Regions from separate parts of the Homo sapiens genome. Here regions 2 and 3 are each linked to region 1. Evidence: fine-mapped expression QTL. A gene starts in region 1. Each other region holds a variant in brackets. All regions are shown on one strand. Distances are from middle to middle.

Region 1 (11,022 bases):
TATAAGGTGTTCATTGAATAGAACGTTCTTTGTATGAAGGTCTGGTAGCTAGAATTAATATTCTTATTATTTTTCTTACCAATAGAAAATTGTAAATTGTTAATAGGTATTCTACCTCTTGTTTTTGTGATATGATGCCTCTAATGACATTGTCATAGTTTAGGATCTGGATAATTGACACAATGTGGCTTAATAAAAGTCAGGGCTGGGCATGGTGGTTCCTGCCTATAAGCCCAGCACTACAGTAGGCTGAAGAAGGAGGATTGCTTGAGTCTAGGAGTTCGAGAACAGCCTAGGCAACATAGTAAGACCTCATCTCTCCAAAAAATAAAATAAAATAAAATAAAAGCCAGACATGATGAAACATGCCTGTAGTCCGAGATATTCAGGAGGCTGAGGTGGAAGGATCACTTGAGCCTGGGAGGTTGAGGCTGCAGTGAGCCATGATTGCACCACTGTGATCCAGCCTGGACAACAGAACAAGACCCTGTCTCAAAAGACAAAAATATCCCTGGCCTGGTGGCTCATGCGTGTAATCCCAGCACTTTGGGAGGCCGAGACAGGAGGATTGCTTGAGTTCAGGAGTTCAATTGCAGCCTAGGCAACATAGTGAAACCCCCATCTCTATATAAAACAAAAACAAAATAAAAGTCAATTAGAAGAAAATCGTAATAAATGTTTCAACAGATGAAGAGTATGATCATTATAGCACTGGTTGCAATAGCAAAATTTGGGAGCAATCTTCATTGTCCAACAGTAATTGACAGATTAAATCCTTACAAAGGGATATCAGGCAGCCATTAAAATAATACTGTAAAATAAATTTATTGACATTTAATTATATGTCAAGTAGAAAACTCTGGCTACAAAACAAGTCCCCAGAATGATCTAGTTTTTATTTTACAAACCTGTCTCTGTATCCCTCTATGTTCCCCATTCCATGCCGTGCCTCCTGCCAACTTTTTCAATAAAAAAAATCTGCAAAGATACATGATAGAAAGGGTCTGATAGCACTGATTCATCTTGGTATAAGGAATTCTGAGTATTTCAAAGCTAGTTTCTTTGCAGTTATGTGTATTTTCTGATTTCTCTGTAATGAATATTAATTTCTTTTCAATTTAAAGAAACATGTTACAGAAAAAGAGAAATCAATTTAGGAAAAGAGTGAGTGAGGGATACTCGAGTACATCACTGAGGTCAACATCATGCAAGACTATCACCATAGTTTTCCACAAAATATTCTTTGGTGCCACTGTCAGAATTTAGAGCCAGTTAGATTGAATATTATTCTGACTCAGCATGACATTTCTTTTTGCTCTTATGCTAATGCTTAAAAGCTTGAAACAATGCACTCTATTCAATACATTTCATCAAATATTTATTGAGTGCCTACTATGTGCCAAGTACTAAGAATACAAGATTAGCAAGACATAGTTTTGTTGTAATCTAAGTCAACCCCTCATAGTATGTGAACCACTTTGAAAATCTGAGATGATTGTTCTGAGATTCTACAGGGGGAAGAATCATATAAAACAATGTCCAAAAAAGTTCATACTAAAATAACCTATTTATATTTTCCCTGTTTTAACTTGCTATATTTTAAACACAATGTAGAATTATGTTGGATCATTATTTAAAAAATACCCACGTGTTTGTGGCTCTTCACTGTGATACCACCTCTATTCTCTGCTTGAATCAATAGCATTTCAACACTTTTACTGCTTTGAGAAGAAATTATTCCAGTCTGTTCAGTCTTTGAGCCAAATCTCTCAGTCTGACTTTGAGATCCTCACTAAAAGCTCTAGTTCCCTCATGAGGCAAAACTGTTTCTAGAGTATGTTTCAAAGCAAAGTTGTGTAACCAACAATTAAACAATTAACAAACTAAAATAGTTTAAAGTTAGGCTTAGTAACTTTACACATTTACTTGTTACATTATATATTACAACTATTTTTTATGAATTAAAATTTCGATCTCAGCTAAATAATTTCAGTTTCTTCATCTTTGCTGTCCCATTAATTATTATTGCTATATCCAGAAGGTTTCATTTATTTATTTATTTATTTGCCCAATTCTCTTGGCATAGAGTTTATATGAATCAGAATGTAAAGAAGCCTGTAGATCATCTTGTACCACTATTTTGTTTTGTGGAAGAGAATATTTAAGCCAGATGTAAAGTAATTTGTAGGAGTGTAAGTTGTTTTGCGTAGTGTCTTTTGAAATGTAGGTATGTGAAAGCTGGTAGCTATTGTTCTTAGAACTTTGCAATTCAGATTACCAGTCTAGTGTTCTTATCTGCCTTGGATTATTTGTCATTACTGTTGGGTAAAACCATTCTTTAGACCTGTAAATTGCTCAAGACACTAGGCATTTTTTTTATGGTACTTGATGGGTCAATTTATTCATTTAACACATATTTATTAAGTACCTACTAAGTGCCAGGTGCTGGTCTTGGCATTAATTTAAATGTTAACAGAAAGTATTAAGGAGTGAGTATTGTTTCAAATCCATGCAAATGAGCATTTTGTGGCTAGTCGTGTGTGTGTGTGTGTGTGTGTGTGTGTGTGTGTAATAAGTACGTGTGTGTGTGTGAGAGAGAGAGAGAGAGAATGTTTGTTTCCTTCCTGTGTAAAATCTGCCCAGTTTTCTATCTTAACTGTCATTATATGTCAAACATATACTATTAAAATTAGCTTATTTCTGAAGCATGTCTACACTAAGGTTCCTGGATTTTATTTATGATGAAATGCTAATTTCTCTTTATGAAACAAATTCTTTATTTCATAATTTTGAATAGGATGGTACTTTCAAAAACCTGCATCTGATTAGATTTGGGGCATTAAATATTTCAATATGATAATATTTTTTTCTTGGGCCTGCAGCATTTTAATTTTATTGTCACATAGAAAATTTTTTATTAATATTAAGACTTTGCTTTCAGAATGCTTTGAAATAGTACAAGCAACGTTGTGTAAAATAGTACAGGTGGAGCATCCCTAATCCACAGATCCAAAATCTGAAATGTTCCAAAATTCAAAACTTTTTGAGCACCAACATGACACCACAAGTTGAAAATTCCACACATAAGTACTTTACACAAACTTTGTTTCATGCATAAAATTATTTACAATGTTTTATAAAATTACCTTAAGGCTATGTGTATAAGGTGTATATGAAACATAAATGAATTTTGTGTTTAGACAGGTCTCATCCCCAAGATATCTCTCTCTCTCTCTCTCTCACTCTCTCTCACTCTCTCTCTTTCTCTCTCTCTATATATATGACACTCAACGTGCACAAGTAATGCCACACTCAGAAAAACTGCTTCCTTCTTTAAATTGTCTGTCTCCATTGTAAAACTGACAGTCAAATTTTAGTAACTCCTGATCTTTTTTGTTTCTTCTGTTCTTTTTAGACTCCTCATCCAGCATTTTGGTCCTGTTTGCTGGCTCTCTCTTTTAATAGGTCTACCCTAGCTTCTCTTTTCAGTTGTTATTTGACGTTACTAGTCTTGCTGTCAATGCATCTCAGTCCTTGGATTCCAGATTGTTATTCTATATCCATCTGCTCTGTCCTGATTGTCAGTGAAAAGTGTTGCTCTTCGCCTGGTGGGACATCAAAACTCTGACAATCTTTGGCTCTTCATTCAGAGATGGGTGGTGCGTGCAAAAGGGTACAGGTTTCTTGGTTATACATTTAGGATACCTTACAAATTTTCCAAAGACTAACATTAACCTCTGGTTAGGGGTAAACGACAAAGTGGCACAACGAAGAAGAAGGAGAAGGAGAAGAGAATTTCAGTAGTTAGTATTTTCAGTTCTGGACCTGGACCTAAGGAAAAACACTGCCAAGTTAGTATATCAATACACACAAGTATCTCCTGAACTATTTTTTTGTTTGTTTGTTTTTGGAGGGAAAGGGAGCTTGGCAATTGCTTGTAGGTACTGATATTAAAATGTTGCAAATACATGGAGGTTCCTTGGTGCTCGCAAAATAACCATGACATGTAAAACAAGCAAAGAACTACCTAGTTTACTAAAGTCTTAAACCCTAACTCATAGATGTCCTAGTATAAAATAGCACTATGGATGCTAAAACCAATGTCTTAGAGTAGTCAAATACTAAAGATACACTTGTTGATACTATACTAAACTGTATTTTAAACCTTATTTTTAGGTCACGCATAGCACTAATAAAACAGTGAATAAGCACCATAAGAGCATGTCAAAATGTAGGAGGAAGGCCACAACTAAACTTCATAGTAAAACCTACCACCATGTGATTAAACACGACACCAAAAAGTTTTTAGCTAGTTTTCTATTTATATCCCTAGATATCTTTGGGATAGGGCCAAAGAAATGAGTTCATAGAAAGGTATAAAGGCCATTTTAAGTCCTGGTTTTGGGTGTGTCAATGTTTGTTGCAGCAGCAGAAGGAAGGCTGAAACAGAAAGTTGTGTCATAAATGGAACAAATACTGTTTAACAATTTTTTTTTGTCTTAAAAACAGCAAAACCCACCATCTTCCTGGAGTCTGCGTTGTTCTCTTCCAGAATAGATGTTGAGCTTTTAAACAAACCTGCAGTAGAAGCAAGCCCTCTCCAGGAAATCCCAATCTCTTTCCAAACAGGGACAGCAAAGGTTCTCTCTGTTGTGGCTGTTTTTCCCTCTCTTCTGGGAATTGGTTTGCCTTCTGAGAGCATCCCAGGAAGGGGAGGTGCGCCCCAAATTGGCGAGGCTCTGCCAAATACCAAAGGCTCTTCTTTGGAAGAAGACTCCTCCTTTGGACGTGAGGCGCCCCTACCAGAGCGCCCGCGTACAGAAACGGAAACCACTAGCTGCGCTGAAGTGAGTCAAGTGATGAAATCAAGACTACACGGGAAGGAAGCTCACGAAACCTAACTGGTGACAGAAGCTGCTGAACCCTGCCCGAAGAAACCACATGAGCCAGCAGTTGCTGCCCTCCCGAAGTGGTCCTCGGAGGCAGCGCACCCCTTCATTTTGGCGAACCGAGGAGGAAGGGAGGAACCGTGTGGGGGAAATCTAGAACTTCTGGTTCCCCAAGGACCCAGCAGACTGTGTTCTGGCTACAAGGTGATCACTGCCACCAGGTCAGTGCAGGATTCCTCCAATGTAGATGGGCCGGGAGCCACAACTTGCGCGGAGCAGCAGCCTCGCCGACCACTCAGAGAGAAGCCGCGCGACAGCCAGGCTTGGCCCGGACGGCGCCCCCACCCTGCGCGCGCGATCCAAGGTTCTCACCTGGAGCGCTCAGGTAGGGCTGGGGCGGGGCGGGAGGCTGGCGCGCAGGCGCGGAAGTGGGGCCTCGCCCCTGCCGACGTCGCAGGCTGGAGCTCACCTGGGAGACTCCAAGTGGAAGCCGAGCCTCGGTTCTGCCTCTCCAGGCAACGCGGGAGGCCCAGCGGGAAGGCAGGAGGCGGCGGCGGAGGAGGAGCTCTACTGAGCCGCAACTGTGGCGACAGCAACCGGAGTCGCAGCCGCCGCCACCTGCACCTGGCGCCTAGCCCACGTCCAGCGCCTGCCCGGCCGCCGCTTCCCGCCACCCTGCCCTGCCCACCCGCCAGGTAAGCCGGCGGCAGGCGGAGGGAGACGCGGTACCCCTGGGCTGCGTTAGAGCAGGCGGGAGGACGGCCGCAGGGGTTCACGTGTTGGGGACAGGGCTACGGTCCAGGTGGCCGGTTGGAGACGGTCTCGAGAGCAGTGTGTCGGTTGCCCCTGGAGAGATCCCGAAAGGGGCGCCCTGGGCCAAGGGGCAGGTGGCGCCTCGGGGGGGAGCCCGGTCACACCCTCTCGCCCACGGTGCCCCCGCCAGTCCCTATGGGGCGGCCCCTGAGGAGCTGGACGGAGACCAAAGACCTGGTGGCCCCGGACTTGCCCTTGGGAGGGTCGCAGCGTGGGGACCCTGAGAGGGAGGGCCCGGCGGGAGGCGGGCGCGCTTCCACTCCGGCTAGCAGGTTGCCTGTCTCCTCCAGCCTCTCTGCCCGAGAGGACATCCCGCGACAGCGAAAGACATGGCTTTGCCAGGCAACTTTCCTAGCCGGGGACCCCAAACAGTTCTAGGCTGCAAACCGCGGCCGCCGAGCCATTTAAATGGTTTCCGAGTGGTTTGGAAAGGGCTCTGTGGCCGGGACGCGGACACCCCTCTCTCTCTGTTTCGACTCTGCACTTTTCCGGGTGCGCTCTCCAGGCCAGAGTTGGGCCCACTTTCCTGATCAATGGAGAAGAGTTCTTTTCTTCCGTGGCGGGAAGAAATCCAACTGCCACGCACCAACCACTCACCATCTCGTTAGAGGACCTGTTGACTTAAGGACCTGCATATCGCGGCTATGGTTTGCCTGTGGCATATGACTCAAAGGTTCAAAAAAACATTGTTTCAGGATCCTGCCACGTCTAAGCTTGGGTGTGCCAGGCCCAGATTCCTTTCCCTGCCTAATTAGGCTTTTCTGAAGCCTAAGAATTGAGGGTGAAACTGGCGCTTACCTTAGACTTTTATTTCCTTCTCTTTCCAACTCATCAAAGAAACTATTTCTGTTTTAAGAACCCCATCGAGTTACCAATATTTCCGATTCTTGAAAACGTTAACATAACTTGCTATAGAAGTTACACTACATAATGAAGACATTTACAGTCAAATTCTATAGCTAAAAAATATTAAAGTGACAGCATTTTAATTAGAAAATCTCTGCTTGTGGGAAAATCTGTTGCTTCTTTTATTGTATATATTTTTCTTTGCGTTTGTGGCTAAAATCCATGAGGTTAAAGTCACACGCTGCCATTAGATTCTTTTTTTTAATTTAACTTTTAATATCTGAAATCTAGTGCACATGTTAAACTTTCCAAGCAATTTGTACCGAGAATCAATCTTTATATATTGCTTTAACCAACATTTTTACGTAGAAGTTTCTGATAATAATAACAATTCCATTGTTTTGTTCTATCTCCACACATTTTAAAAATATTTTTTAAATTGCACGTTTTACTTAAAATGCCTGATGCAACATGTAGTGGGGTTATTTTTCTTCTTCTTTTTAAGATTAGATGGAAATCTAAAAGCCAACCACAGCATAACATGATGTAATTATTAATTCAATCACCACTTTTCTACATTTCTTAAAAGGATCTCACCTGACCTCTTAATCTTGTCTCCATACAGAGAAACAAATGTGCTAAATACTGTTTAAATATGAGATATAGGAGTTGTTCCCTGAATTTTGAATATTAGTCTTCATTACTTACTAGGCAGATGTTACCAGACTGTCTTTCCTCTTAACCTCTAGTGAGAAATGTAACATGTTTTCATTAGCTAGAGTAACAGTGTAACTTAATCTATCTGTTAAATAGGAAAAATAATACTTTCCTAGATTAAGATAACAAAACCTTAAAAACAATCAGGAGTATCTTCCAGCCCTAGCATTCTCGAGATCCCTTTCTCACTTTGGAGATTCAATACTCAAACCATCCATTTATGAAAAATTGAAGCCAAGAGAGGTATTCTAACTTCATTTCACTCAGAGATGGCATGATCATTCCAGTGGCTTGACTCATGACTCCTGTATCTTACTTTTCACCACCCACATCCTCACTTACCATAAGATGTTTATCTTTTTTCTTTCATATAATTTGTAAGGCCTTTGTAATTACAGAATTGTCCATTGCTCTTTCTTCACTCTGATTTACCCTCATTTCTACTTGTCCAAATATTGCCTGACTTCGTGGAAACTACCCAGTGAAGGCATCATGCTCCTCTCATTGTGGAATAGCATGCATATTGATGATGCCATGTCAGTTGAGACTTTTAGTTCCTTCTTGGTATTTCCAAGCCACAGTTAATTTTTTAAGTCAATGTGGATAACATTATTTAGTCTTCTGATCTTTTTATTATATTGGCTTAAAATATATTTTATGAGGCAGCTACCCAGTGCCTTTCATCCATTTGCAACACTCCAGATTTTTTATTTCAAGCACACTTCCTTAACACTAAGTTTCTTTAAACTTTTTTTTCCTTTTACTGCAATCCTCAATAACTAATTTATTCTCTGCCTCAACTCTGTAAACTCCAATGTGAGTGTATATAAATGAAACAAGTTTTATTAATATAAAACAGTGCTTAACCTTACAACATGTATGTTCTTTATTATTTTATTTTTAAAAACGTTGGTCTAAACAATTAGACTGCTTTATGACCACGAAAGTGCTGGAGCCCTCAATGTGAAAATAGCACTATTCTGTTGAATTTTTGTTCTTTTAAAGGCTGATTTTTCTACCAGCTTTCTTTTTCTCTGTCTCATACATGCGTATACACACACACACACACACACACACAGGCACACACCCACTCACATGAAAGAAAATAAATTATTTCTTAAAAACTTTACTGTAATCCTAATTAAACATGTATTGTAGGGCTTGAGGCTCCAGGACCTTGGTGCTAGATTAAATCTTTCAAATATTAAGAACTACATGAAACCTTGTTCATTATACATATTTTGTGTTAAATGGGTTCTCATCATGCTGTAGTGTATTTGGGAACAGGAAAAACTAGAAATATTTTTTTCTGAGGGGATTTTGATGATAAGAATTCAGTGAAATTTTGAGGGAGAAACCTTCTGTCCAGCTCTATTCTGAACTCTTAAAGTTTTATGACTGAGTTAGAGTTCTGGGTGGAGTCTGAAAATTTATTAGAGAAAACATAGCCAGTTTATTATTTGGTTTATATTCTGTTAATATTTAATGCTTTTCTTTTTTACTATGAAACAAGTATGAGACAAATTGTAGGAATTACACTCCCCCTCTCCACAAAAAGACTACATTGAGAGATTAAAATAGATCCCTCAATGATTTGTAGGAATGTAGTCTTGGAAGCTCTGATTGGATAATTAAGCCTTCCGTAGACACTTTCAATTTTAACCTGCCTTTACATTCTTGGTGGGTGAAATATTTCTCCTAAGGAAAATATTATCATATTTAGGATTTTAGAAATGATCAGTGCCTGAATCATCTTCACATGTATTCAGTTCTTTAGTCCATCAAGTGCAAAAATACATTTGGAATGATAGATACTTTATAGATATAAAATCCTATTGAAAAGGAAGGTGTTTTCAGTTAGCTGTTCAATTATGCATTTAGTTAGTATCAAAATAATTCATACTATGTAATTTGGGTGAAATTTAACACAACTCATGTACACTAAGGGGGAAAACTGAATTCAAATCAATTCCAGCAGTGGCAAGAGACAAAAGTACATTCACTTATTGCAAAGCAAAGACAAGTAGGACTCTGAATTCTAGGTCATTAGAGACTACTGACAATTATATGACACTTCCTTGGGTCATTCTCAGAGTTGGGCTCTTATTTTTGGCACTAAAGAGAGAATATTCCCCCAAGTACACCTTTTCCCTATAATTGTTTCAGTTTCAAACTGTCCAAACTAATTTTCTTTTCTATATGATTGCCTATTGGACATCTTTAACATTTGTTCATCACTGGAGATTATATATGTTCAAACCAGAACCTTCATCTCATCAAAAAACAAATGAACAAACAACCTGCTCACTCTCTGTATTCTATTTATAGATAGTAGTACATTGTACCATTTCTTATCTATAATTCAAAAATCATCCTCTGAAAACAAAGCAAAACAAAATTTAACTCATTTGTTAGCAAAACTTGAACTCAGTTGGAGCAAAGCCTGAGTGAACTGTCAGGAGGCTATTGTGATTGTGTATTCAACTTAGTGGATTATGTCCAGCTGCAGAAATAGTGCTGTTTGATTACATAATACTGCCCAGGCCCTGCTGGGGTACACTTTTACATTGATTATGTAAACCATATCACCTTTCTAACATCCAAAAAAATCAGATTTTTTTTTTTTTTTATGAGACAAGGTCTCACTATGTTGCCCAGGCTGATCTTGAACTCCTGGACTCAAGTGATCCTTCCATGTCAGCCTTCCAAGTAGCTGAGACTACAGGCTGTCAAATCCTGAATTTTGAAATATATTTTGCTGCAGAGATTTGGGAGAGTGAATCATAAATGTGTACTACCATCCAGGTGCCATACCAGAAATCCAGAGGTAATTTTAAACTCTTTTTCTTAGCCTCTACAACTGCTATGGTCTGAATGTTTGTGTTTTTCCAAAATTCATATGTTGAAATCAAATCCAATGTATTGGTATTAGGAGTAGGGTCTTTGGGAGGTCATCAGGTCACGAGGGCCTTGGCCTCGTGTGTTTTTGTAAAAGATAATGTCCTTATAAAAGAGGACTGAGAAAGCTTGTTAGCCTTTTGCCCTTCCTCCATGTGAGGATACCTAGGAGGCCATCTATGAGGGATGTGCCCTCGCCAGACATTGAATCTGCCAGCAGCTTGATATTGGACTTCCCAGCTTTCTGGCTGTGAGTGGTATATTTGTGTTGTTTAAATTACCCAGTCTAAGGTATTTTGTTATAGCATGAACTAAGACAACAACCATTAGAACACTGAATCCACTTAACATTTTATACCTTTCTCCCAGCCATAAATTCTTTCACTTCTACTGATCTAGTTTAAGGTCTTAACATCTCTCAACCAAGGTATCATAGCTGCCTCCTACCTGGTATCTCAGCAGATAGTGTTGTCAACCTCAAGTCCACCATCTGGAGGATGAGGATGATCTTTTTAGAAATGCAAATTCTCTCTCTCACTTAAAATCCTTCAACAATTTTCTGTTGCTTACCGGATAGAACCCACAGCCCTTAAAATGGTCCCATGGGATCTGAGACTTGCTTAACTCTGGAGTGATACTCCATAAGCCGAAATTTTATTTCCCAGCAATAGACTTCTTATTGTTTTTTTTTTCTTGTGTGCTTTTCTTTTGCACTTCCCACTGCAGAGAGTGCCTTTCCTTCTATCTTTACATCTATCTATAGCTCTTAATGGCTCTTAAAACTCAAAGAAGGTCTTGCTTCATTTGGGAAACTGTGTCCCCTCACCCACACCTCCACATATACCTGAGCAGGGTGAGG
Region 2 (11,022 bases), 29 kb after region 1:
TGAGCTAAGGAAGTTATCTGTTTTTTAGCTACTCTAAGGCAGAAAATCAGCAAATACTGTTTATTTAACCTGTTGTATTTATTTTTTGCTTATAATGATTGAGGCTACATATCCCTATTTATGCTTGGTGAGGCAGTGCAGATATGAAAAGTTATTAGCTTGGAAATTAGAAAACTGAATTCTAGATCTGACTGCTATCCACAAGGAAATTCTTTATTCCTAAATACTGTGGTTTTCTCATCTATTTAGGGGGAATTATTGGACAATTTGTATAGGAAGTAGAAGGTAGAGGAATTGTTTCCATTTCTCTGTATTTCTTTAGAATAAAAATGTTTAAAAACATGCCAAGATTTTGGAACTGTTGGATAATATTTTATATATGTGTAAAGCAATTCACAGACTTTGTGATTACTTTGACTCAAAGTTTTTGAGTACCTAATTATATTTCAGAATGCCCTATTTTTTGTAAACAATCCCAAGTAGCTGGGATTACAGGCGCCCGCCACCACAGCTGGCTAATTTTGTGTATTTTTAGTAGAAACGGGGTTTCACCATGTTGCCCAGGCTGGTCTTGAACTCCTGACCTCAGGTGATCCATCTGCCTTGGCCTCCCAAAGTGCTGGGAGTACAGGCATGAGCCATTGCACCTGGCCCACCCTCAACAGATTATTTATTTATTTATTTATTATTATTATTATTATTATTATTATTATTATTTTGAGATGGAGTCTTTCTCTTTCACTGAGGCTGGAGTGCAGTAGTGTGATCTCGGCTCACTGCAACCTCTGCCTCCTGGGTTCAAGCGATTCTCCAGTGTCAGGCTCCCGAGCAGCTGGGACTACAGGCATGTGGCACCACGTCCGGCTAATTTTTGTATTTTTAATAGAGACAGGGTTTCACCATGTTGGCCAGGCTGGTCTCGAACTCCTGACCTCAAGTGATCCGCCCACCTCAGCCTCCCAAAGTGCTGGGATTACAGGCGTGAGCCACTGCACCCAGCCCCTCAGTAAGTTTTTAAGTGTACAAGATAGGCCAGGTTTGGTGGCTCACACCTGTAATCCCAGCACTTTGGGAGGCCGAGGAGGGCAGATCAGCTGAGGTCAGGAGTTTGAGAGCAGCCTGGCCAACATGGTGAAACCCCGTCTCTATTAAAAATACAAAAATTAGCCGGACAGGGTGCCGTGTGCCTGTAGTCCCAGCTACTGGGGAGCCTGACGCTGGAGAATTGCTTGAACCTGGGGGCAGAGGTTGAAGTGAGCGGAGATCTGTGCCGTTGCACTCCAGCCTGGGCGACAAGAACGAAACTCCATCTCCAAAAAAAAAAAAAAAAAAGAGTACAAGATAAGCAAACTGGAAGCAAACAATGCCTGTGTATTTTGCTTTGCTTTCTGGATATTAGAGAATTACATTTGGCAGTGAACTTGAAGATAACTTTTGGTCTATTGTTTCACTCAGGTTTTTCTAGATTTAGGATTATCAATACTGGATCCAAGTATATGAGTCCCTTAACATTGAAACTGTGTAGCTTAGATTTCTGTTGAGCTATTCTAATCTGATTGATTCAAGTTTAGGTTGCTCATAATTTTTAAATGAATGTGTAAAGAAACTAATATCTATAAAATATTCTAGCTGATATAACAAGGCACATTATAGTTCCTTTCATACAGTAATAGATTAGAATGCAGTATTGCACTTTACTGACTTGAAGAGAGGTTTTGATTGAAAAGTAATCTACATTAAAAATCAATAATCATGATTTTTATTCTTTTGACATGACAATCAGTGACAGCTCAAAATGAGCTTTTTTCTCCCAATATAGCATTAAGAAGCTGCAATAATTTTCAATAATGTTAATCGCTAAGTAAGTGAAAAACAAGTAAGCACATTAACAACATTTTTTGGTTGGAGTGAAGATTTAATTATTTCTTACTTTGGACAGGGTTTTGTACAGGTGGTAAAGATTTGTTTTTTGACTTCGTGATCTGCCCGCCTTGGCCTCCCAAAGTGCTGGGATTAAAGGCATGAGCTACTGTGCCTGGCCTGGCCAACATGGTGAAACCTCATTTCTACTAAAAATACATAAATTAGGTGGGCATGGTGATGTGCGCCTGTAGTCCCAGCTACTTGGGAGGCTGAGGCAGGAGAATCACTTGAACCCGGGAAGCGGAGGTTGCAGTGAGCCGAGATTGCACCATTGCACTCCAGCCTGGTGACAGAGCAAGACTCTGTCTCAAAAAAAAAAAAAAAAAAAAAAAGATTTGTTTTTTACTTTGAATGTAACCAGTATCAGCAAATAACACATTTTCTGAAGAACTGCTAATGTTTTCCATGCTCATTAGAAATATAGACCTAGTTTCTCCCAAAGCCAGATGGTCATGTGACTGATAATTTAAGCATGTTTCTATGTGCCAGGTTTTTCAAATGGTTTGACTGGAATGATACAGTCACTTTGGCAAGTTATTTTAATTGCACTATTTTAAATATGTAAAACAATTTTCAAAGCATACATTTAACATGTTGTTTCAAAATGAATGGGGTTTATGAAATTATATTGTGAAATTTTATTACTTGTATTGATATGACATTTGTACTTGATATTGGTAATTATCAGTTAAGCAAATAAATCCTAGTTTAAACTGACGGAAAATCTTGCAAGATTAAAGTGATAACATTTTACTAGTATGAATTTTTGTGAAATTTTATACTTTAAATCTTCAAAACCATTTTATAATTATCGATTAATACTATATTAATTAACCACATAGCAAATAAAGGTAGGAAAAAAATCTTATACTCAGAATTTCACTTTCTCCTCAAAATGCTTATAACAAATCATAGGTTTCCTCTTTTTTTTTTCTTTAAAAATAAAATACCACAATATGGAATTTTTCATAATTTTTACTTCTAGTTTATGTTGGTTATAAACTTTTATGGGTTCAAAATATAAGCTTATATTTAGTCATTTATTTCTGTGTAGTTGTGGTTCAAGTGTGTATATTAATAGTTTGTGTTTGAGCTTTTTTATTAATTGGTAGTTTATCCAAAATTCAATTTAGAATAAATAATTTGTTTTTATTTATGAATGATGAAGAAGGTGCTTATTTTTTCCGCCCATGCACCTGTATCATGCTTTGAAATCATGAAGAAACTGAAGAGCAATGCCACTTTCACTCAGAATCCATCCTCTCCTTTTTCTAATCTGTTGTTGACATCTTCTCTTGATATTTTACCCCAATCCAACTCCTTTTTTTAATCACTACAAATAATCCATTCTAAAGACTTGCTGTTAAAAAAGGGTATCAGAGACATTCCTATTGAGGTATGACTATGAAAGTAATTAATGGGATAATTTGTGTATCTTTTTTTAGGGCAGTTTTCTCAGGCCCCTAATATCACACTGGAGGCTACAGTTTCCCCATTGGCCCTGGCAGAGGAACTGAAGGGTGATGGGCTTTTATCTCCAATTTATGGTTTTTAAGTGACCTTAAAGATATAGTTGCTTTATTTGCTTATCTTTCCCATAAACCTCACACAGTTTTATTTTATGTCCCAGTGACTTGAAGCCCTCTCCTATATGTTCTTTCATTTAATCCTCACCTCCATTCAGCAGGCTTGGCACTGTGGTTATCTCTACATCTCTAGCCTCAAAGGCTGGAGACTATGCAGACTCTCCTGCACCCCAGTGGCTTAATATGAAGATATTTTTCATTGAGGAAAGACATTCCTATACAAATGAATTTGAGATCAATTTATAAGTAATGTTTTTAACTAATGGATAGTAGTACCACTAATCAGTCAAGGGCACTTAGGGTCTCTCTCCCTGTGCCCAATCAATGTTTTAGATGGTGACATGAGCACAGGACTTTTAACATGGATTTAGGTCTTTATTTAGATCTTTATTTCTACGTATTTTTAAAGGGTTTTTTTAAACGCTAGTCTTATTTGATAGTAGATCAAATTATTGGAGCAAAATCTTTAACACATGGCAAATGGCAGTACTTAATAAGTATTTGCTGAATGATGAACATCATAAAAAGATAGGTTTAGGCTGGACATGATGGCTCACCCCTATAATCCCACCACTATGGGAGGCTTAGGCAGGAAGATTGCTTGAGGTCAGGAGTTCAAGACCAGCCTGGGCAACATCACAGACTGTCTCTATTTTAAATAAAAATAAGAAGAACATAGGTTTTACAATAAAGCTATTTTTTCCCTTTTGATTCTGTGTATAGATTAAGTAAATTGATTCAATAAACCTAGGAAATACTTAAGAAACCTATATTACATACTTAGGTAAATATCTAATTAAAGATAATCTTTATAAAAATGATTTAATATTGTGGGCGCAGTGGCACACGTGTGTAATCCCAGCACTTTGGGAGGCCTAGGCGGGTGGATCACAAGGTCAGGTGATCGAGACCATCCTGGCTAACATGGTAAAACCCCGTCTCTACTAAAAATACCAAAAATTAGCCGGGTGTGGTGGTGGGCGCCTGTAGTCCCAGCTACTCGGGAGCTGAGGCAGGAGAAATGCGTGAACCTGGGAGGTGAAGCTTGCAGTGAGCCGAGATCGTGCCACTGCACTCCAGCCTGGGCGACAGAGAGAGACTCCATAAAAAAAAAAAAATTAATAAAGTGGTACAATTTTTAAAGTTGCAAATATGAAAAATGAATGATTTCTGCATGAAATAAGAAAAATTTGGTTTTTATTTGAGCAATTATAAGGGTTTGTCATTTTTACATGCTGCCTCATTGTAGGTTATTTTCATTATTTAAAATGTTATTTGCATTTAAAATTACATTGTTGAGAAAGCTATAATAACATGTTGTAATCCTTGATATGTTGTCATCTCTGTTGGTAGACATCATCTCTGGGTGAGTGATTTGCTTGTAAAAAAATTGTTTTGATTTATTTACATTTTATATAGCATTGAGATTATATCACATACAAGAAAACTATCCTTTTTCAGTGATAAAGATTCAATAATGATAATGTTAGCAATGGTATAGCTGTGAAATAAAATAATAAAATTTGTAATTGTTTTTCTACTTCTCTGACTTCTTCTAGATGTATTGAACAAAAATTTAAGCGCTGCCCTCCCCTGCCCACCACCAGTGTCATAATAGTTTTTCATAATGAAGCGTGGTCCACGTTGCTTAGAACTGTCCACAGTGTGCTCTATTCTTCACCTGCAATACTGCTGAAGGAAATCATTTTGGT[G/A]GATGATGCTAGTGTAGATGGTAAGAAAGCACATGCAAATTAGATTGTTTCCCAAATCCATATTGTGGTATCTACAGTCTACTTGGTTATGTGGTACTCTCTGTATGCCATCTCAGAGCTTGAATATAATAGTTTGGATAGTGGGTATGGTGAATGAAATTAGAATCCAAGGATGGACATATTCAAATATTTTCAAATGCAGAAATGTATGAAACACCATTATTCATAACTATGTAGTCCTCAATGTGAGACTGTTACAGTAAGGCATAGAGGTTAAGAGCACAGACTTGAGCCTTTGAGTCAGGCTGCCTTGATTTGAATCCCAGCTCTTTTCCTAACCAACTATATGACTTGGGCAAGTTACTCAACCTCTCTGCTGTGATTTATCAGCAAAATGGGAATAATGCCATATTTCATTAAATATATTATGTGTTGTTAATTTATAAATCACTAGAGAAAACCCACAGCTAATTAAACTTAACATGCCATTGATTATAAGAAATTGATTATAAGAAGAATCCAATTGTGTAGCTTAAAATTGAGGAAATACAGAACTAGTACATAATTTCTAGAGTTGTTTTAAAGACTGAATGAGTTAATATAAATATCAATAAATAATATAAATGAATAGTTAAAAAGAGTCACCATGTTCTATTTTATTTCGGTGTTCTTAAATATTCCAATATTACTTACAATGTTAGTCAAATTCTTTAGTACATTTCCACTTAAAATTGGAAGTCAAATACTAAATTACACATTTTAAATTGGAATCACAAGGCTAATTTAACAAATACTCTAACTTGTAAATTTTCAAACATCATAAGTATTTTAAATATTGTGTCAAACAGATACATATTATTTCAATGATTACAAAATTTATTCCTTAATAAATCCAAGTTTGGAGTTAGATTCCTGAAGGTCAGATATCTCATTTTATCCTCCCAGCAATGTCTTGTGATGGTGAGTCCGATTATCCTCATCTTAAAGAAACTGAGGCGCAGAAAAGGTAAAATTCCTTGCCCAAGGTCACACAGCTAAAAGTAATTGTGCCATAAAGTGAAATCAGGGCATCTGATTTCATGTAGCTTTCTGTTCTTAACCTCCCAAATAAAGGGTGTGCATGGGAGCTAAATTTAGGGTGCAGATATAAATTTACGGGAAGTTCATATGTTGTGGGTAAGTAAATTTTTTTTTAACAAATTCCAACAGTGAGAGGGTATATTGAAGCAATCTGTAGTAACTCCATTTAAAATAATTCTAACCAAGAATGTTGAAATTTTTACAAGCCTCTTAAAACAGAAAATGTTTATGATTATATATTTAAGATGAGTTACAATTCTGCTTGTCTTTCTGAGAATTATTTCTGAGGTAGTTAGAAGGTGTTAAAAGCTTAATCTGAGAATTATTTTGAGGTAGTTAGAAGGTGTTAAAAAGTTAATCTATTACTCTGAGACAACAGTGTTTAGATAGATTTATTTTTCTACAAGGGTTGTTCCTGCACTTTCCTCTCTTATGAATGTTTAAGCTTTAAATAAGCAGCTCTCTTAACTGAACCACTGGAGAATTGAAAAAAAGGTTATATTATCACAGATAAAGTCAAAGTCATCTGCATTTCCTTCTAAAATCTGGCAGAAGCAAACTTTTGCCCCAGGACATTTATTGATTTTCTTAACATTCCCAAATTTTTTTGAGGCTATGTTTTGGGCCCAAGAAGGCTGCTTGAAGAACTGCATTTTGTACTCAATAAGAAATCAAAAATTTAATTGAGAAAAACAGGCTTAAGAAGTTGTTTCAGAATATGAACAGCTGGGCGCAGTGGCTCAACCTGTAATCCCAGCATTTTGGGAGGCTGAGGCCTGCAAATAGCTTGAGTTCAGGAGTTCCAGACCAGCCTGGGCAACATGATGAAACCCCGTCTCTAAAAAAAAAAAAAAAGAAAAGAAAAGAAAAATTAGCTGGGCCTGTTGGAGCATGCCTGTGGTCCCAGCTACTTGGGAAGCTGAGGAAAACTGCTTGCAGCCCAGAGGCGGAGGTTGCAGTGAGTTGTGCCACTGCACTCCACCCTGGGCGACAGAGCAAGACCTTGTCTCAAAACAAAACCAGACAAAAAAACAACACTGGATTGACATTTGTTAATAACTTTTTTAAAACCTATGATCTCAAATTTTGCTTATTACAAACCTTATCCAATTTGGTATATTGAATATCTTAAAGTATATACCCAATACTAAAATTTGCCTGTTTCATATTTTACTAAATAAAACTGTCAGGAGACTCCAAAGCTTTCGCAAATTTTTCTGCTGACTCTGTGTAGGAATCGTCCCAAACTGCTATAGCTGTGGACTTTCTGACGTGGCTCAACATTTTGGTGTTAAATTATTTTGATCCTTGCTTAAATATCAGAGGTCTTTAGATATTTGACATTTTTCTTTAAGATTTCCAGATTTAAATACCAATTTCAAAGCATTGAATATCTTTTTGGCCAAATTCCATATCTTTCACTCTTGTAGTCAGTCTTCTCAGACCTCTAAATGAGTCTTTTGAACGGCTAGGGTTGACTCCATTTGAAGTTTCTCACTTCCCTCCAAACACATTATATTTATTGATAGGAAGTGTACAGAATAAGTATGCATTACAGTGTTTTGTGTTACAGTAGTGATAATTTGCATAGCTAGCCTTTTTCCCCAGTAAGGAGTTAAAGATAAAATTTTCATTTTGCTGGAAGGACACATGCAACTGTTAAGATTATGAATTTGGAAGGATCATTGCTCTGTGGTTTCATTAGCTTTCATAAGCTATATATGAAAATGCATTTAGAAAGAATTAACCCTGATTTTTTTTCCTTACAGAGTACTTACATGATAAACTAGATGAATATGTAAAACAATTTTCTATAGTAAAAATAGTCAGACAAAGAGAAAGAAAAGGTCTGATCACTGCTCGGTTGCTAGGAGCAACAGTCGCAACAGCTGAAACGCTCACATTTTTAGATGCTCACTGTAAGTATATATGTATGGATATGGTTGTAACATTTTCCCTCCCTCTCCCTCTAATTTAAAAGGTAAGGAAGTCTTTTCTTTTCTAAATGCCTAATTGCATTTTCTTTAACAGCGTTTTCAACTGGCGATTATAGCAATGACAGCCCAAGCAGGTAACAGCTCTGTGGAGAAAATTCCTTTCACTTATGCAGAATTCTTATCTCCTTTTGTGTTTAAGTTTCCTCAACTTCAGTGTTCTCCAGTTACTAGCTGTTCCAGCCAGTTATCCTTGCCTCTTTTTTTTTTTTCCATGTTTCTTTTCTGTTAAAAAAAAAAGTGTTTGTTTGTTTGTTTGTTTGTTTTCTTGATTCCCACACTTTAAAGTGAATGAAAGCTTATTTACTATTTAAATGTAGCCGGGCGTGGTGGCTCATTCCTGTAATCCCAGCACTTTGGGAGGCCGGCGTTGGTGAATCATTTGAGGTCAGGAGTTCAAGATCAGCCTGGCCAACAAGGTGAAACCCTGTCTCTACTAAAAATACAAAAATTAGCCAGGCATGGTGACATGTGCCTATAATTCCAGCTACTAGGGAGACTGAGGAATGGGAATCGCTTGAACCTGGGAGGCAGAGGTTGCAGTGAGCTGAGATTGTGCCACTGCACTCTAGCCTGGGCAGCAGAGTGACACTCCGTTTCAAAATGAATGAATGAATGAATGAGTGAGTGAATATAATCCACCCTATCATTAAACTTCGTCCTAGTACTGCTGCTTTTTTTATATTTTAGTTTGTGTGTGTGTTTTTTTTTTTAAATTTGCAGACTCCTTGGCATAAAAAGGAGTCTGCGAATTTTCAATAAAAACCACAAAACCAAAATATGTTTATATATATACTTTTTATGCCAGGTTAGGGGTGCCCCATCCCATCTTCTTTGGTATCCCTTACATAAACATTGTCAATTTTTGTTTGACTTTGCTGCTGTTGGTTTTTCTTTGTACTTTAATTATTTTCAGAGTCAAAGTTTTTGAAGTATTTAGAAAGCATTTTTAGAGTCAATGTGTCATATGCATGCTAGTTATTACTAAACTGTCATTTTGTCCCTTGAGCTCTGAGTTTAGTGGGCTATACTTTGTATGAGTGTCTAGCTTTGAATTGGCCAGTGCTTAGGTTATGTTTCACCCAATTACTAGTTTTGAGCACACACCGATTATTACAGAAGGGCTTTTGGATGTGCTTGTGTTGCTTAGAGCCATCACATTCAGTTCTCTTTTAATACCAGACATTTAGAAAATGAAGAGAACACTAAAGGTAATGCTAGAGAGGTGCTTTAAAAAGGAAAATACCATCCTCTGGTATTTCTTCTCGTTGTTCAAAATTACAATAAGATCATACTGGACATTCTTACCCACTACCCACTGGGTGGATATGTCTGACGGTCCTCCCGGACCATGACTGCCAAATACTGCTTTGTGGGGAGCCCAGAATAGGACAGCACATGCATTGGCTGAACTTGCTGTGTGTTACATAAAACAGCCTGGCCTGTGACCAGGGCTTAGACCTATCATGACATGAAACTCCTTGGCCCTCCCTTTATATTAGGTCTGGGGCAGCTTTGAATGGTCCTTCTTCTCCAGTTGCTAAAATCGGAATTTATACTGACTCCTTATTTTCTCCTAAGACCCAGTCAGATAAATGAAAATTTCAATTACTGTACCTTATTCAGGGAGATACGAGTTTAAATAAATCAGAACACTTTTAGGGCCAGGTAATGTGGAACAGCAAAAAGCTACCTTTGACTCATAGGCCATTTTAACACATCATCTAAACTTTAAATACACTGGTGTTATTTTGCATCTTTTGTAGAAGAAAGAAGGTCATCATCTGTAGGGGAATTTTTCTAACTGTAGTGAATCTTTTTTCACCTTTTTCATCCTACCCTCATCTCATCACAATAAACCTTTAAAAAATCTCCCCTTCTGGAGATCTATTGTACAACGTGGTGACTGTAATTAATAATAATATATTGTCTACTCAAAAATTGCTAAGAGTAGATCTTAGATGTTCTTACCACCCGCTCCATAAGCCGATAAGGTGATGGATATGTTAATTAGCTTGATTGCAATAATCATTTTACAATGTATACATATATAAACACTATGATATACACTGCAAATGTATAGAATTTTTATTTGTTATATCTCAATAAATCTGAGGAAGAAAGAAATCTCCATTATATACATGTTCAAAACACAAATTGACTCTGTTATTCTCATTTCTCTGTAAACCTTCACCTAAATAACTAAAGAAAAAAACTTCAATGTTTTTATTGAATTAATTAAAATTCTGTTCCCTCCAGGTGAGTGTTTCTATGGTTGGCTAGAACCTCTGTTGGCCAGAATAGCTGAGAACTACACGGCTGTCGTAAGTCCAGATATTGCATCCATAGATCTGAACACGTTTGAATTCAACAAACCTTCTCCTTATGGAAGTAACCATAACCGTGGAAATTTTGACTGGAGTCTTTCATTTGGCTGGGAGTCGCTTCCTGATCATGAGAAGCAAAGAAGGAAAGATGAAACCTACCCAATTAAGTAAGATGATTGCTCTCAGAGTCTTATATTTACACCCTATACCATACATTGAATATGTACACACTGTTTGCTTTATAGCAATTGCCTCTGAGGTAATTGATAAAGAACACACATATTCTATATAAAGAGAATCTAAAAGTCATTCATTTGTGTACTTGCTTATACATGATGTTGCTGAGTAAGAGGTAGCAGTGAGTGAGCTCTTATGTCTTCCTCATCAATCATTACTTAAA
Region 3 (11,022 bases), 59 kb before region 1:
CCAGCAGTAGAACCATATCTTGCTGGCATACACTTGGGGTAAGAATATCATTGGCAAAGTTGCTTAAGATCCGATCTGCTTAACTATAACTACCTCCCCCTTCCCTGTTTCCTTCATCTTCCTACTCATATACACATGATACTTTCCTCTCCCTTTTTCTAGTTCATCCCCCTGGGAGAACCACTTTCTTGCCTAGAGTGAAACTCTACTCTCTTGTTTATGTTCAACATATTTTGTTGATGCTCCAAATTCTCTTGTTCTGGCTTCTCTCCAAGGCATTTTGTCCTTTTCCTTACAACTAATGTAAAAAAGAAGAAATATCCTTGAACTTCAAACTTTTTTATAATAAACCTTAGTGATCCATCAGACCCAAATGTCTAATCAACAAAAAGAATTTAAAAACATTAACTTTTGCTCAAATACAAGAAGAGCTTAAACTCCAGACTCTTCTAGCACAGCAAGGAAAGAGAAACAACAGTACAGCTAGTTCCATATTAAAAAAATAGGAATGTTCATCTCCTTCCATAATTCAAAAAATACTACCGGAGAATCAGAAAAGTAAAAATTGTGCTTGTATAAAGAGTTCCTGGATTGTACTGGCTTCCTATATCAATCATTTCTCTCCTGCTTTCCTGTAGATGGCCCCGCCTCCTGGACTTCCATCTGTCATCAGGAGAACATAACCATCTGGAGTCAGTACAGATCATCAATCCTTCCACATATACAAGTTCATTTTAAATTTTTAAAAATATAATACAACTGAGAAGTCTTCATTAAATTGTTCTGGTGGTCCTACCTGTTTTCTGTTAGGGATCCAATACATCTCAGAGCCACATGGGTGATGCCATAATGCCAGGGCTGAAACACTGCTTTAGGGGTCTTTTACTTTCCTATTGCTGCTATAAAAAATTACCACAAACCTTGAGGCTTCAAACATCACAAATTTATTTTCTTACACTTCTGGAGGTCAGATGTTCAAAATGGGTCTTAGAGCTAAGACCAAGGGGCAACAGAGCTCCCTTCCTTCTGCAAGCTGTAGGGAAGGCTCTGTTCCTTGACTTTTCTGGCTTCTAAGGCCTGCCTGCATTCTTTGTCTCATGATCACATCACTGTGACCTCTACTTCTGTCATCATGTTTCCTTCTCTAACTTTCCTGCCTCCCTCTCTCCCTAATAAGGACCCTTGTGATTATATTTGGGCCTACATGGATAATGCAGCATATGCTCAAGATCCCTAACTTAATCACATCTGCAAAGTTCCTTTTGCCATGTAAGTTAACACATTCACAGGTTTTAGGGATTAGGATGTGGACATCTTCAGTGGGGATGCGGGCATTATTCTGCTGACTACAGGGTCTGATATAATCGGAGGCCCACTTCCTAGAAATCAGAGAACCTGATTTCTAGTCTGCAATTAGGAAATTCAATTAGGAGAGTGCATAGGGATTGCTGGTATCTCTGTTTTACCTTTGACTTATTAGACTGTAGCCACAAATTCTGGCCCCAGCCTATAGAATGTTATAATGAGAAGCACTGGCTTTAAAGTCATACTAACTTGACTGGGATTTGTTTTTTGTTTGTTTGTTTGTTTGTTTTAGACAGGGTCTTGCTCTGTCACCCAGGGTGGGGTGCAGTGGCGTGATCATGGCTCACTGCAGCCTCGACCTCCCAGGCTCAAGTGATCCCCATACCTCAGCCCCACAAGTAGCTGGGACTACAGGCGTGCACCCACCACACCCAGCTAATTTTTTTATTGCTTGAAGAGATAGAGTCTCACTATGTTGCCCAGGCTGATCTTGAACTCCTGGGCTCCAACAGTCCTCCCATCTCAGCCTCCCAGTTCTCGGATTACCCTCATGAGCCACTGTGCCTGGTCTCACCTGGGTTTTCATCTCATAGGAGCTCTGAGAGCTTGGGCAAGTTCCTCACCTTCTGTGAACTTCAGTTTTCACCTCTCTTCTCTGGGGAGGTCTTAGAGGAAAGAGACTCAGAGACTCACCTGCAGGATACTCTTAGGAATAATGCTGGTAAGGGAGGGAGAAAAGCAGGATTGGACTGCAATGAAGTCACAAGGAAGGCTTCAGCTGATCCCCAAGGGACTGTGTTGATGGGATGGCCTCCCATGGCCTCCCTTTAAGGCAAAGGAGACAGACATTGGTTTCCCCTGAGTCAATCTGCCAGGATTGGGACTACATAAGAAGAGTGAGATGCTTGCCTTGAGGACAAAATTTAGAGGGCGTCAAAAAGCTCAGTAGCCAAGATAAATAATATTTTAATGTATTATTATTTTTTAAACCTAAATTAATGCAAAAGTCAGCCTTTATTTAAAAATTTCAGTATTTTGTTCAGGGTGAACTTTTGCATTGGTTAGTATTTTTTAAATAATGCTTTAAAATAGAGAGTGTTTTGGGGAGCCATATTGGAGCCTCAAGCAAAGAGAAAAATCAGTCATATTGATTATATCTTTATTTAAAATTGTGATATTTTGATAATTACAGAACCTTTGCATTTTTTATTTTTAAAATATTACATTAAAATATTGTTTGATTACTGAGTTTTTGGCTCCTGCTTAAATTTAGCACTCAAGGCCAGTTTTTCACCCTAGTCCTGGTCCTGCATTGTACACAGGCTGCCCCACTCTCTCTTCAGGAGGAAATATAGTCTTAATCCAAGGCCAGTGCTTGGAGAGGGGTTTAGCTATGAGCCATTAGCAGCCAATACTCCTGGCATCTGGGGAAATGAGTGCCTTGATTTTGAATAGGGGCATGGTGCCTACCATAGTATCCACTGTGATACTGTGATGTCGACATATAATAAGATTGTTTTGTCATATAGTCATTCACTCATTGGGATAGTAAGATTGTCATGAAGGACATAAAGACTTATGTGAGAGGAACTTCAAGAAGCCTGACTGGAGGCATCTGACACTTACCTCCTCCACAGACAAGAACCAAAATAGCAAGTGCATAATCAAACTTCGAATAGAGCATCTAAGAGAGAATATTGGAATTCAACAGAGAAGGAACAGGAAGCACCTGAGGCATGGAAGGAGCAGGAAGGGAGGCAGTCAGCTCAGCTGGGATCAGCTGGGAGCTCATAAAGACTCCCTAGTTCAGGAAAAGGGTAAGCAGTAGATACCCACCTTTCCATATTCCCACCATGGACTCCTGATACCCTAGCCATGGGAGACCCCATCACAGGCTCTCAGAATAGCATAGGGACCTGCCTGGAGATGACACAAAGGCATTGCTCTAGAGTGGGAGTTCATAATGGTCCAACGCACCCACCAAGTCCTAAGCAGATTCACCATAGGGCCATTTTGAGAGCTTAGGACCCACTGGAGGTTGCATCCCGCCTTGGGGCCCAAGAGCCCCTGCACCTTCACGTCCCTGGAGCCCCACTGACACCATTCTGTGTCCACCCAGAGAGCCGTAGCAGCAATAACACCAGTCAGACTCAGCAGAATGGCAGGGTCCCCAGCACTCCAGCACACACAGTGCCCTGTATGCCAGGTAAACGGTGGTGCAGCACCCTAGGGAGGCTCTCCCAGGACAAAGAAAGCCAAAGCACATACTCTCTATGGCCAGAGAACCACCTACCTGGGACAGCTACCACATATAATGACCCTGCCCCCAGCAGCAGGGCTACTGCAATCACACTCTGAGGACAGACCCTCTCATCACCAGCCACAGCCACTATTGCTGCCACCAGAAGCCAAAACACATGTAGCTGGTCACGACTCCATCTACCAAGCAGCAGGGCTCCCATCACGCATTTGCACATTTCCTGAGAACTAGTTTTCCCTGCTGCTACTACAGCTGATATACCACTGCCACTGCCACTGGGGATTAAAGCATCCCTCCTCCCACACAGCCTAAGAACTGCCTGCCTGTGGCTATAGTTACTGTCAGAAACTCTGCCTCTACTCCAACAGCAGGACTGCAGCATACTTGGACATACCCTAATGGCAGGCTTTCCCTGCCTACCACCCCTGTTGTAGCAGACTCCCAAGCTCTCTACTGGGAGCCTGAGTGTCACTCCTCTCTGCCCACCATAGCCAGGGCCTGATTACATTCCTGGGGTCCCTGGAAACAGGCCTACCTGGCCTGGCACTCCCCCCACTCCAGTGCCCTAGAACACTGTCTAAGGGCTTGTCTCACCCTGTCCACCACCACTGGCATCTGTGCAGTCCTCCTAGGGCTGCTACCACCACAGCAGCACCCACTGCACATACTGCCTAGGGAATGAGGGACTGACATACCCAGCTCCTTGTAGATATCACTAACACCAATGTGTGTCACTTCAGAGCCCAAGGATTGTCTTGCCATTACTACTGCCATCACCCACATCACACATGCTATCCAGGGACCAAGGACCCACTCGACTGACTGACCCACCACTACCACTGCAGCACTTCAGCCATCTGTAGACCTAAGTATTGGCCTGTTTCAACCCACTAACACTGGTGACTTCATACGCCAACTGGGAACCCGAGGCCAGGCATGCTTGGTCTACTGCTGCCGCGACTGGAATCTGATGACTGGCCTACCTGTAATCCTCATCCTCAACAAAACCTCACCATAGCCTCCACTAACAACAACAACCTAAGCCACTTAGGAAATCACAGACACAGCTGATGCTGTTTACAGCTGAATAAATCATATGGAGACTACACTACTGCATGCACCCAGAATCAAAGCTAGTGTCCTACCCAACCAACAGCATAGATGTATCTTCAGGAAAAATCCCTTCCCTTGTAAAAGTCAATTCAAAAAAAAATTGGAAGAAGTGACTGTTACACCGGAGGTACAGTTATCAACGTAAAAACACAAGAAACCAATCCAGGCAACATAGCAAACCTTGTCTGTGCTAAAAATAAAAATAAAATGTTAGCCAGGAATGGCAGCACACTGCAGGCTATAGTCCTAAATACTTAGCAGGTTGAGGCAGGCTTGAGAGTAGGAACTTGAGTTCATAGTGAGCTATGATTGATAACACTGAAAATAATTGAAAGAAATCAGAAAAACAATTCAGGATGTGAGTGAGAAATTCACCAGAGATAGATATAATAAAAAAGAACAAACCAGAAGTCCTGGAAAGAAAGAATTCAATGAATGAAATTTTAAAAATTCATACAAGAGCTTCAACAATAGATCAAACAAAAGCAAAAATCTCAGAACCTGAAGACAAGTCTTTTGAAATTGCCCAGTCAGATTTTTTGAAAAGAAGAAAAGAGAATAAAAAAGAATGAACAAATCCTGTGACATAAGAACACAACACAACTAAATACATGAATTTTGGGTGTTCCAGAAGGTGAAGAGACCAAATCCATAGAAAACCTATTTAACAAAATAATAGCTGAAAACTTCCCAAGTCTAGCAAGAGATTTAGACATATAGATATGGGACGTTTATAATCCCTAAATAGATATAAGTCAAAAAAGTTATTCTCCAAGGCATATTAAGGTAAAAGTCAAAACCAAAGAGCATTATAAAAACAGCAAGAGAAAAGTGTTTAGTCACATATTAGGGAACCTCTATCAGACTAACTGGGGATTTTTAAAAATACATATAGCAAAAATATTACAGGTCAGGAGACAATAGAATGATATATTCAAAGTGATTAAAAAAAAAACTGTCAACCCAGAATACAATACCCAGCAAAGTTGTCCTTCATAAATGAAAGAAAAATAAAA[T/C]CTTTCCCAAACAAGCAGAAACTGAGGGAATTCATCACTGCTAGACCAGACCTACAAGAAATGATCAAGGGCATTCTATACCTGGAAACAAAAGAATGATATCTACCATCATGAAAACACATGAAAGTATAAAACTCACTGGTAAAGCAAACCCACAAATAAGGAAGAGAAAGAACCCAAATGTTATCACTACAGAGAAACACCAAACCACAATGATAAACAACAAAAGAGAAAGAAAGAAAGGAAAAAAGAAAGGAAAAAGATAGAAAACAACCAGAAGATAATTAACAAAATGACAAGGATAAGTCCACACTTACCAATAATAACCTTGAATGTGAACAAATTAAATTTTCCACTTAAAATGTATAGACTAGCTAAATATAATAGATTTTTTTAAAACATGACTCAACTATATGCTACCTATAAGAAACTCATTTTACCTGTAAAGACATATATAGACTAAAAGTAAAGGGATGGAAAAAGACATTCCATACAAATGGAAAACAAAAAAACAAGCAGAAGTAGCTATACTTATATCAATATCATATAAAACAGAATTTAAGTCAAAAAACAGTAAAAATAGATAGAAAAAGGTCATTAAAACACAATAAAGGGATCAATTCAGCAAGAAGATTTAAAAATTCTAAATATATATCACCCAACATTGGTATATATAAATTAAATATTATTAGACCTAAAGGCAGAGATAGACTCCAATATAATAATAGTTTTAGACTTCAACACCCCATTATCAGCATTAGACAAATGATCTAGACAGGAATCAATAAAGAAACATTGGATTTAAATTGCAACTTAGACCAAATGGACCTATTCAACATCAACAGAACATTTTATTCAACAACAGTAGATACACGTTCTTCTCATCAGCACATGAGACATTCTCCAAAAAAGACCATAAGTTAGGCTACAAAACAAGTCCCAATAAATTCTTAAAAATTGAAATCATACTCAGCATCTTCTTAGACCATGGTGGAATAAAACTAGAAATCAGTAACAAGAGGAACTTTGGAAACTGTACAAATATATGAAAATTAATATGCTCTCAGCAACCATTGGGTGAATGAAAAAATTAAGAAGGAAATTAAAAAAGAAATTTTTGAAACAAAAAATGGAAACACAACATACCAAAACCTGTGGGATATAGCAAAAGCAGTGCTAAGAGGGAAGTTTATAGCAATAAATGCCTATATCAATAAAGTAAAAAAATAACAAATTAACAAACCAATAATATACTTAGGGGAACTAGAAAAGCGAGAACAAACCAAACTCGAAATCAGCAGAAGAAAAGAAATAATAAAGATAGGGGCAAAACTAAATGAAATAAAGACAAAAGAAGTAAGACAAAGGATCAACAAAATGATAAGCTGATTTTTCTAAAAGATAAATAAAATGAATAAACTGCTAACCAACCCAGCCAAGAAAAGAATTCGCAAATAAACACAATCAGAAATGAAAAAGGCAACATTACAGCTGATACCACAAGAACACAGAATACCATCAGATACTATTATGAACACCTATACAACAGACTGAAAAACATAGAGGAAATGGATGAATTCCTGGACATATATAACCTACCAACAATGAATCAGGAATAAATAGAAAACCTGAGAAGACTAATAACAAATAACAAGATTGAATCAGTAACAAAAAGTCTCTTAACAAAAAAAAGTCCAGAACCAGATGGCTTCACTGCCAAATTCTACCAAACTTACACAGAAGAATTAACACTAATTGTTATCAAAATATTCCAAGAAATTGAAGAGGAGGGAATTCTTCCCAACTCATTTTACAAGGCCAGCATTACTCTGATACACAAACCAGACAAGGGCACAACAAAAAAAGAAAACTACACATCACTATACATGGTGAATATAAATGCAAAAATCTTCAACAAAATACTAGCAAACCAAATCCAGTAGCACTTCAAAAATATAATACAAGTGGGATTTATCCCAGAGATGCAATGGTGGTTCAATGTATGCAAATCAATAAATGTGACACAGCACACCACCAGAATGAAGGACAAAAACCATGTGATAACCTCAATAAATGCAGAAAAAACATTTGATAAAGTCCAACGATCCTTCATAATAAAAACTCTCAACAAACTAGGCATACCGGAAGCATATCTGAACATAATAAAGTCTATAAATAACAAACCCTCAATTAACATCATAATAAATGGGGAAAGACTGCAAGCATTTCCTCAAAGAACTGGAACAAAACAAGGATGCCCACTTTCATCACTCATATTCAGCATAGTACTGGAAGTCTTAGCCAGAGCAATCAGGCAAAGAAAAGAAAGAAAAGGCTTCCAAATTGGAAAGGAGGAAATCAAATTGATCCTCTTTGCTGATAACATAAAACTGTTAGATATGATAAGTAAATTTAGTAAAGTTGCAAGATACAAAGTCAACATAAAAAAAATCAGTAGCATCTTTACATATCAGTAATGATACAGCCGAAAAAGAAATCAAGCAGGCAATCCCAGTTACAATAAATCCCATTTACAATAAACTAAATCCAGGAATAAATTTAATCAAAGATGTGAAAGATCTCTATAAGAAAAACTACAAAATACTGGTGAAAGAAATTAGAGAGGACACAAAACAAATGGAAAGTCACCTCATGCTCATGGATTGGAAGAATTAATATTGTTAAAATGACCATGCAACCCAAATCAATTTACAGATTCAATGCAATCCCTATTAAGATATCAATGTTATTTTTCACTAGAATAGAAAAAAACAACTCTAAAATTGTTACAGATCAAAAAAACAGCTCTAATGGCCAAAGCAATACTGAGAAAAAAAAGCAAAGCTGGACGTATCACACTACCTGACTTCAAAATATATTACAAGGCTATAGTAATCAAAACAGCATGGTATTGGTACAAAAACAGACACAGGCCAATGGAACAAATAGAGAACCCAAGGTTAGGCATGGTAGCTCACACCTGTAATCCCAGCATTTTGGGAGGCCAAGGTGGGAGGATTGCTTGAGGCCAGGAGCTCAAAAACAGTCTGGGCAACATGGCAAGACCCCAGGTCTAAAAAAAAAAAAAAAAAATAGCCAGGCATGTAGTCTGCTTCTGTAATCTCAGCTACTTGGGAGGTTGGGGCAGGAGGATTGCTTGGGCCCAGGAGGTTGAGGCTGCAGTGAAACGTGATTGTGCGACAGAGCAAAACTTTGTCTCAAAAACAAAAACAAACAAAAAAACAAAAAATAGAGAACCCAGAAATAAACCCACATTTTTATAGCCAACTGATTTTCAACAAAGGCTCCAAGAACACACATTGGGGAAAGGATATCCACTCCAATACGTGGTGCTGGTAAAACTGGATCTTCATATGCAGAAGAATAAAACTAGACAGCTATCTCTCATCATATAAAAATATCAATTCAAAATGGATTAAAGTCCTAAACATAAGACCCAAAACTATAAAACTGCTAGGAGAAAACATAGAGGAAACACCACAGGATATTGGCCTAGGCATAGATTTTATGGCTAAGATCTCAAAAGTGCAGGCAACAAATACAAGAATGGAGATGGGACTATGTTAAACTAAAAATCTTCTGCACAGCAAAGGAGATCATCAATAGAGTGAAGAGACAACCTGTTGAATAGGATAAAATATTTGCAAATTATTCATCTGATAGAAACTAATATCCAGAATATGCAAGGAACTCAAACAGTTCAACAGCCAAAAAAAACTTAATAATCCTACTAAAATATGGGCAAAGTACATAAATAGACATTTCTCTAAAGAAGACATACAAATGGCCAACAGTTATATTTTTAAAATGCTCAGTATTTCTAATCATCAGCGAAATGCAAATCAAAACCACAATGAGATATCATCTTACCCCAGTTAGATGGACTATTAATAAGAATTAAAAAAAAACAGATGTTGGTGAGGATGCAGAGAAAAAGGAGCTCTTATACACTGTTGATGGGAATGTAAATTAGTATAGCCACTATGAAAAATAACATGGAGATTTCTCAAAAATCATACTATCCAGCAATCCCATTGCTGTGTATTTATCCATAAGAAAGGAAATCATATCAAAGGGATACCTGCACTCACATGTTTATTGCAGCACTATTCACAAAAGCAAAGATATAGAATCAACCTGAGTGTCCACTATTGGATGATTGGATAAAGAAAATTTGTATATACACACAATGTAATACTATTCACCTTTCATTAAGAAAGAATGAAATCTGGTCATTTGCAGCAACATGGATGGAACTGGAGGTCACCATATTAAGTGAAATAAGCCAAGCACAGAAAACAAATATTGCATGTTCTCACTTGTATGTCGGAGCTAAAAAAGTGGATCTCATAGAAGTACAGAGTGAAATATTAGGTTGGTACAAAAGTAATTGCAGTTTTTGCCATTTAAAAGTAATGTTAAAAGTAATAGTTACCAATTGGCAAGAATGTGTGTGTGTGGGTGGGTAGAGGAATGGATGGGCATAAATTGGTACAAACATACAGTTAAGTAGAAGGAATAAGTTCTAATGTTTGATAGCAGAGTAGGATGTCTATAGTTAGCAGCAGTGTATTGTATATATATCAAAATAACTAGAAGAGAGGGCTAGAAATGTTCTCAACACATAAAAATGACAAATACTCAAGGTGCTGGACACCCTAAATACTCTGACTTGATCATCACACATTCTATGCATGTAACAAAATACCACATGTACTGCATAAAAGTGTACAAATAGTATATATTAATTACAAAAAAAAATCGTGTGGCTACCAAAACTCATTATTTCAGGTGCTAGCAAATGTAGTCACAACCAAGACTAGGCTTGAACTCTTCCTTTCAGCTTCCTGACAGCCAAGTAACGGAGTGAAAGGTCAGATAATTTACTTAGACCTGAGACTGCCATTAATATTGTCAACAAATTGCTTTGATCTACAGCTCATTAGCTTTGGTTGGAATTGCTAAGCAAATAAGCCAAAGTGAAATTTTGTTCTATCCAATGGCCTATCTAGTACCTTAACCCCAGACAACCTTCTTACATGGTGATCACAACTAAGCTGGTGAATGGGCATAAATCTTTTATTGCTACCAGAAAAAAAAAAAATCAAAGTGCAAGCTCTATCAAATGTAAGTGAATGCCCATGATGTGTCTAGCATCTATACACTGTGTTCTAGAAGTATGTTAATTTGGCTTAAAGAAAAACTATAAATTCTTTGTCTTCATTCAGAAATCAGTAATTCTCAAAAGGGAAGGTAGTTTATAACCCCTAGGAAGATCAGTGATTCTCAAAAGGTGGTACGGTTTAT

The links. PIP is the estimated chance that this variant, and not a neighbour inherited with it, causes the effect. A credible set is the group of variants that fine-mapping cannot tell apart.
Region 2: its variant is the best candidate, but not a certain one, in a credible set for the expression of GALNT3 in monocytes after R848 (Quach 2016, PIP 0.67).
Region 3: its variant is the best candidate, but not a certain one, in a credible set for the expression of GALNT3 in nucleus accumbens (GTEx, PIP 0.67).

Annotation. Positions count from the first base shown.
Region 1 is chr2:165,788,577-165,799,598 of GRCh38, reverse strand. It overlaps GALNT3 (polypeptide N-acetylgalactosaminyltransferase 3), which reads left to right and starts at 5,352. Exons shown (of 11, transcript NM_004482.4): 1 at 5,352-5,584. It overlaps LOC124906086, which reads right to left and starts at 6,013. Exons shown (of 6, transcript XM_047446887.1): 1 at 5,807-6,013; 2 at 5,262-5,680; 3 at 4,520-4,799. The coding sequence starts at 6,013. RefSeq lists silencers at 5,410-5,559, 5,630-5,719 and enhancers at 4,790-5,695, 5,696-6,602.
Region 2 is chr2:165,759,103-165,770,124 of GRCh38, reverse strand. It overlaps GALNT3 (polypeptide N-acetylgalactosaminyltransferase 3), which reads left to right. Exons shown (of 11, transcript NM_004482.4): 3 at 5,069-5,241; 4 at 8,071-8,220; 5 at 10,555-10,789. Among named protein-coding and RNA genes, the nearest start is that of GALNT3, 30 kb to the left of the region's middle. The variant G/A (reference allele first, on the strand shown) is at 5,222.
Region 3 is chr2:165,847,231-165,858,252 of GRCh38, reverse strand. It overlaps LOC100506124 (a long non-coding RNA gene), which reads left to right. Exons shown (of 4, transcript NR_045375.2): 3 at 1-38; 4 at 639-778. Among named protein-coding and RNA genes, the nearest start is that of GALNT3, 58 kb to the right of the region's middle. RefSeq lists an enhancer at 3,857-4,358. The variant T/C (reference allele first, on the strand shown) is at 5,695.